Linked DNA regions of Homo sapiens. The gene in region 1 interacts genetically with each later gene. Each region holds a gene or a part of one and is shown on either strand. Other genes may lie near its edges.

Region 1 (3,849 bases):
TGACACCATGAAGTGCCACAGCAGCCTGGATTGCCACCAGACATTTTGGTCATCAGTCAGATAGAAACTTCAAGCTCATTTAAGCCCCTGTTATTTAGAGTTTTTCTACTACTTACAGCCAAACTTAACTTCAACTAACTCTGCATATGACCTAGTTCTTGGCAAAGAGATATACAAGCAAGTCTGCTGAGGAGATTCAGGAGAGATTTTCCTCCTTCATAAAAGGGAGGAGGGAAAGAACCTCTGTGTCCTAAGCTGGCCTCTGCTAAACTGCACTAAAAAGTGCAGTTCCACTAGGACAGCAGATGCTGCTGGAATCTTATAACCAAAACAGGCCAGTCAAAAAAACCGCATTTCTGTGATATCTTTGAGCTGACCCAATTCTGTGATAGCTTTGAGCTGCTGAACTTGCTATATGAGAAATAAAGAGAACTCTTACTTGTTTAAACAACTCTAGGTTGGGGTCTCCGTCACATTCCTGATAGAAAATCTATTAATATCATTTCAGAAACCTTGACTGGCCATTGATCATGTCATATCCTGAGAATTCCCTGTGCACTGACTATCTCCCAAGTGTGTCCCCACCAAGCACCTGCTACAGTTGTGATACTGTGAGATACAGATTTGGGCTTCATCCCCATTTCCTTGCATACAACTCCTCAAATCTTTGGAATCTCCAAGGCGCTTTTTGTATGCTAATGTTGACTGATACCTTCAGGATGGGGTCCATGGTCACTGGAAAGATAGTCATGGAAAACAGAGAGGCATGATTAGAGGGTTGGGATTTTCAGTCCCACCCCACAACCTCCAGGGATCGGAGAGGGGCTGAAGGTCAAGGTGATCACCAGGTTTAATCAATCCTGCCTACCTAACAATGCCTTTATAAAAACCCAAAAGGACAGGGCCTGGGAACTTCAACATAGCCGAACACACAGAGGTTCCTGGAGGGTGGTGCACCCAAGAAGGGCATGGAAGCTCCACACCCCTTCCCCCATAGCTCACCCTATGCCTCTCTTCATCTGTATTCTTTATACTATCCTTTATAATGAACTGATAAACTTACATGTTTCCCTGAGTTCTGAGAGCTGCTCTAGCATATTAATCAAACCCAAAGGCAGGGTGGTCATGGGAACTCCAACTTGAAGCAGGTAGATCAGAAGTTCTGACGACCCAGAATGGCAACTGAAGGCGAGGGCCAAGGGGCAGTTTTGAGGCCTGAGCCCTCAACCTGTTGGATCCAACACTGTCTCCAGGTCGTGTCTGAACTGAATTGGAGGACATCCAGTTGGCGTGTGCTGCAGAACTGAATGCTTGCTTAGTGGTGGTGAAGAATCCCTCCCCACCCCAACACACATTTAGTCACGGAAGTCTTCTTCTGTGTTGTTGATTGTTGTGTTAAGTGAGAGAATAGGAATTGGGATTTTCCAAAGAGTCCACCCATATGGTTCCATGACAGCACTTACCACCCTAGACTGGGACTCTCTGTGTCCCAGCAGGCCTCGGCACAGAGCCTGCTCTGTGGTGAGTTAATAAATAAAATCCGCCTTCCCACTATATGCACCTGTGGAAAGGGGACCCACTTTTGAAGATCCACCCTGCATTCAACCCATGGAGCCTTCCATAATATGAATGTATATGGTATAATCCCACATGTAGTATGTTTTCCCTGCACATTCAGAATAAAAGCTAAGGCCTTACTCTGGCCTACAAGGCCCAACACAATCTGACCCTAGTCTACTGATCCATTCTCACTGGGCCTGGCTTGTCACAACTGCTTCCTTGATAGTAACCAAAAAAACAAACAGCCCAGTGTATTCCCAACCCAGGCTTTAGCACTTGCTGACTTGGTCCCACACGGTTCCCCAGATGCCCCATTTCCTCAGGTCTGCTCAATCCCCACCATATGACTACCGCAGAACAATGAGCAAGCCAATTTCACTGCATCTTCACAACCAGGCACACGCTGATTCTTCATCATTATCCCCATTTTGCAGATGAGGAATCTGGGTCCAAAGAGGGGAAAGTACTGCTCCAGGGGCACACAGAGAGCACAACTGGCAGAGCGGGGGTTCAAACTTCAGTCACCCTCAACTCTTCCCTCTACATTACCCACCAGCAAATCCCATCAGCCCCCCTCAACATGTCCTGACTGTAACCATACTTCCCCCCTGCATGCTAACACTGGTCCTGGGTGCTTTGTAATGGCACCTCAACAGGGCCCAACCCCTATGACAGCCAGAGGAAGGATCCTTTAAAATTATACCAGAACCCATAATTACTACTGAAAGCCTTGCAATTCCTCCTCCTCCCTCCCATCTTCAAGGCCTTCACCTTGGCCCACAGGCCTCACTTGATCTAGTCCTGGTCTAGTCCTCACCTCCCACCACTTTGCCATTCTCTCTGCCTCAGTCACACTGGCCTTTTTGCTGTGCTTTGAACGCATCAAGCATCCTCCCACTCCTGGCCTTTGTACCAACTATTCCCTCTGCCCAGACTGCTCTTCCACGACCTGTTCATTTCATTCAAATCCTTGTTCAACATCACTTCCTCAGAGCAGCTTTCTCTAACCTCCCTATCTAACAAAGCAGCCCCAGGTGCTTGCTCTATTCCCTGTACCTGTCTTATTTTGTTCTTTTTTTTTTTTTTTTTTTTTTTTGGAGACAGGGTCTTGCTGTCGCCCAGGCTCTCACCGCAGCCTCGATCTCCCTGGTTCAAGCAATCCTCCGACCTCAGTCTCCTGAGCAGCTGGGACCAAGGCCTGTGTCATCACACCAGCTAATTTTTTTTTTTTTTTTGGTAGAGACAGGGTCTCACTTTGTTGCCCAGGCTGGTCTTAAACTCCTGGGCTCAAGCGATCCTTTCACCTTGGCCTTCCAAAGTGCTAGAATTGGCCAGGGGTGGTGGCTCATGCCTGTAATCCCAGCACTTTGGGAGGCAGAGGCGGGCAGGGAGTTTGAGACCAGCCTGGCCAACATGGTGAAACCCACTCTCTACTAAAAATACAAAAATTAGCTGGATGTGGTGGTGGGCGCCTCTAATCCTAGCCACTCAGGAGGCTGAGGCAGGAGAATCACTTGAACCCGGGAGGCGGAGGTTGCAATGAGCAGAGACGGCCTGGACGACAGAGTGAGACTCTGTCTCAAAAAAAATAAAATAAAATAAAACCAAAGTGTTACAATTAGGCTTGAGCCACCACGTCCAGCAATTTTTCTTCTTAGCAATTACTGCCACTGACATCCCACTACAGATCTACTATCTGTCTCCCAAACCAGAATGTAAACCCCACAAGGGCAGCTTTGCTGTTTTGTTCCCTACTGTATGTCTAGTATCTAAAACAGAGTCTGGCACACAGGAGGTGCTGATAAATATTTGCTGAACAAATAAATCAAGACTACAGGATTTCATGTCCCATGTTCCTTCTAGTATCCTGAACTGTCTCAGACACAATTAAAATGTCTGGCATATGAATATAATCAGCAACCGTGTGTCCCACCCCAGATTCTATTCCACCCTTAGGTCCTACTTCCTTTCCTGGCTCCTTCATTTCTCAGCTGCACAGCTTTGGCCATGTTATTTATGGTGCTTCAGTTTCCTCATCTGGAAAATGTGGACAAGGACAGGACCTACTTCAAAGAGTGATTGTGAGAATTCAGTAAGATCGTCAGTGATATTCCTCTGTACTGTACCTAACATAGAGCAAGCACCCAATAATTTGTTACGCAGATGGTTTAAGTCAGAGGTCAGCAATTTTTTCCCTGCAAAGGGTTAGACAGCAAATATTTGAAGCTTTGCGGCCATCTCTGTTACAACCATGCAACTCTGGGCTGTAGCACAAAAGCAGCCATAGGA
Region 2 (3,849 bases), on another chromosome or scaffold:
AGCAGATGGCAACAGGAGACTACACTTATTTCTTATTGCTAAACAGCCCTGAGTGCATGAGAGACAGATTTTGAAGAACTGCAGAACTATCTGGTCAAAAATAAATCACATTTTAAAAGTGATTCATAGATGCTGAGGCATATAAATCATGTTTTAAATTTCTGCAGGTGATATTATAATGAATGAACTCTTCTGCTTATGCTGTATCCATCACCAACCTACAGCAATTTCAAGAGTTACTGATTAAGCTAAAAGCCCATTATGCCCACCAAGACCTTACTTTTTAAAGGAAATTCCATTTGGTTGAACCAACTTCGACTTTCTCCTGCCACCCACCTCTAATCTCATTTGCATCTCCAGTCATTCCAATTTCTTCCCTTAGGTTGCCATCAAAAGTCTAAACTGAGCACTGAACTTTCTCGTTGTATATAAATTGAATTAAACAGAAAAAGAAGAAACAAACATGCTTCCCCAAATTTGAAGCTGAATTGTCACATTAGTCTTGGAATCACTAAAATAAGATGGGCAACTGTGAAGGTATGAAAGTCACACTAACTAGAGAGGAACCCAGCTCTCCATTTCCATTTTAAACTCTGAGGAAATATGTGATGTCTCAAGTTAAACTTCTCATTTGTAACATTACCCTCCTCCTGCTCTGCCTGTCACAAAAACTGCCCTTGACAAGGTCACCAATGACCTCCCCACTGTTAAATCCATTATCAAGTTCTAACCCTTATCTTACTTGACCTACCAGCAATTTGACATAGTTCATATTCCGTCTTTGAAATAAATACTTCTTTACCTGGCCTCAAAGTCTTCACTTTTTCCTGACTTTCCTTCTTCTTCTCTAGCTTTAGTCTCCTTTCTTTCTTTTCTTTCTTTTTTTTTTTTTTTAACCTTTAAATATTGGCATTCCCACAACTTAGTCCTTAGACTTCTCTTCTCTGGCAACACTCCCTCCCTCAATGATCTCATCAAGCCTCATTGCTTTAAACCATCTATAGGTTGAGTATCCTTTATCTGAAACACTTGGGATCAGAAGTGTTTTAGATTTTGGATTTTTTTCAAATTTGGGGATATTTGTATTATACTTACAGGTTGAGCATCTCTAATCTGAAAAATCTAAAATGCAAAATGCTCCAATGAGCATTTCTTTGGAGTGTCATGTTTATGCTCAAGAGTTTTGGATTTTGGAGCATTTTGGATTGCAGATTTTGACAGTTCCCCAGTTTATTGTGTGGGATGCTTTTCTGAAATCCAAATCAGTATGTCCAGCTTCCTACTCAACATCTCCTTTTGGATAGCTAATAAGTTTCTCAAACTTGGCATGTCCAAAAGTGAGCCCCTGATCATTCCTCAATGGTGCCCCTCCCACAGTCTACCCATCTTAGTTATTGGCAACTCCAGTTTTATAGCTACACAGACCAAAATCCTAGAATCATCTTTAGTTACTCTATTACTCTCTCACACATACACATTCCACATCCCAATCCATCAGTAAACTCCACTGGCTATACCTTCAAATCATATCCAGAATCCTGCAACATCTCAACACTTTCACTACAACCACCCTATTCTCAATCAGCATCTTCCATCAGGGATAACACAACAGCCCTCTAACTGGTCTCCCTGTTTCCATCTTTGCTCCCCTGCAGTCTCAACACAGCATATAGAGTGACACTATTAAAAAAAAAAATCATGCTGTGATCACATCTCAAAATCTTCCAATGGCTTCCTGTCTCACACATAGCAAAAGCCAACTCTACATACAACTGCCTATCCTATATGAGTGAGGTGGTTGTTCTCTCCCTTGCTTACTCTTTTCCATCTGCTCTGATTCATTGGTGTTGCTCAAAGATACTAAACAGAATCTTACCTCAGAACAGTGTCCCCCACCCCAGATTCCTTCTGGCACACTCCTTTGCCCTCTTCAAATCTCTATAAAATATTACCTTTTTAGTGAAGAGTTTCCTGACCATCATAAATTGCAAAATCTACCACTCAAACTAAACACTTACAATCATTTAACATACCATATGTTTTATTTATTTATCATCTGCCTCTCCTGGTGTATGTTCTATGATGGTAAAGATCTGTGTTTGGTTTCTTCTCTATTGTATTCCCAGTGCCTAAAATTCCTTCCACATAGAAGGAATCCAAATACTTGAATAAATAAACAAACTAGTGAATGAAATATGTTTGCGTTGGTTTAAGTAAAGTTGCACCCATCAGCAAATTAAAGTATATCCCGATTTTATATGTTTTGGATTTCACAGGGCAGTTTCTTGTCAACTAGTTCTTCTATAATAATGTCAACAATTAATACAAGCCTCCTTAATCAAAATGTCATTAACATATTGTTTTTTTCCCCAGCTACAGGTTTTACCTACGCTCCTGCCTCTTTTAGTCTATCGTGACATATACACAGCAAAATATATCTTAGGGCCTATGAAGCAAATTAGCTGACATAATCACTACTACAGTCACTAAGGCCTAGTAATTAATCACAACACTGTTTCTTAAAAGTAAGTACAGGGGGCCGGGCGCGGTGGCTCAAGCCTATAATCCCAGCACTTTGGGAGGCCAAAGCTGGCAGATCACAAGATCAGGAGTTCAAGACCAGCCTGGCCAACATGGTGAAACCCCATCTCTACTAAAAAAAAAATACAAAAATTAGCTGGGCACAGTGGTGCACGCCTGTAGTCCCAGCTACTCAGGAGGCTGGGGCAGGAGAATCGCTTGAACCCAGGAAGTGGAGGTTGCAGTGAGCCAAGATCATGCCACTGCACTCCAGTCTGAGCAACAGAGTGAGACTCTGTCGTTAAAAAAAAGTAAGTAAGTACAGTGATATTTCATTCGTGTGAATTTTTTGCTCCAACTAATGGAAGTTTATACTGTTTATTTGTATTTGAAACATTTAGAAAAAAGAAGAGCCTTTAAGGAAGATAGCTTAAATGTGAAATAAACTTGAATGTGAAAACAGAAGGTAACTGGCTCACTCTATCAGTCTGTTATCACTGACATATACCAACTACCAACATTCAGAGAGAAACATGATGTGCAAAAAACTATCTTCAGTGAGCTTGTAGGGTCATAAATTACAACTGCTAAGCTGAATGGGAGACTGCATTTTCAAAGTCATGTATTTCCAGGCTGGGCGCAGTGGCTCATGACTAATTCCAGTACTTTGGGAGGCCGAGGCAGGCAGATCACTTGAGGTCAGGAGTTTGAGACCAGCCAGGCCAACATGGTGAAACCCTGTCTCTAATAAAAATACAAAAATTAGTTGGGTGTGGTGGTGCACACCTGTAATCCCAGCTACTTGGGAGGCTGAGGCAGAAAAATTGCTTGAACCGGGGAGGCAGAGGTTGCAGTGAGCCGAGATCATACCACTGCACTCTAGCCTGGGCGACAGAGCGAGATTCTGTGTCAAAAACAAAACAAAACAAAAAAACAAAGTCACATATCTCCAGAAATGTTATATTTTAAAGAGCCTACAGAATAACGCTTAGCACTTCAGAAATCTTCCCTCCCCTAAACTGACCAGTGCCCTAACATTCGTTGTTCCAACATTTTATGGCTCCCACTAACTCAAGTAATCAACAGCCAAAAAAAAAAACCCCTGTAATTTCATTAAACGTCACCAACATAGTTTGAAAAAAAATCCAATTTTATTTAAAATAGTAAATACTTCATGAATGTAATATATATGTTCCTTAATAGAAAGGAAGTAAAAATTTCCTTGGACTCACAAGGACTTTCTGAATGCAGTCATGATGTAGGATTTCTTCTTCCAACATAATTGTTTGTGTTCTTTTGTATTCAGCAAAGCAGCTTTAAGAATCAGAT

What was found. Genes that interact genetically often act in the same process or in processes that back each other up.
Region 2: changes in PPP2R1A (region 1) and WDR7 together harm fitness more than expected from each alone (negative genetic interaction), as found in Homo sapiens cells (one large-scale study listed by BioGRID).

What each region holds. Positions count from the first base shown.
Region 1 is NC_000019.10:52,192,896-52,196,744, reverse strand, and holds part of PPP2R1A (serine/threonine-protein phosphatase 2A 65 kDa regulatory subunit A alpha isoform), read right to left. Parts: intron 1-3,849. UniProt on the Homo sapiens protein: The PR65 subunit of protein phosphatase 2A serves as a scaffolding molecule to coordinate the assembly of the catalytic subunit and a variable regulatory B subunit.
Region 2 is NC_000018.10:56,657,704-56,661,552, reverse strand, and holds part of WDR7 (WD repeat-containing protein 7), read right to left. Parts: intron 1-3,849.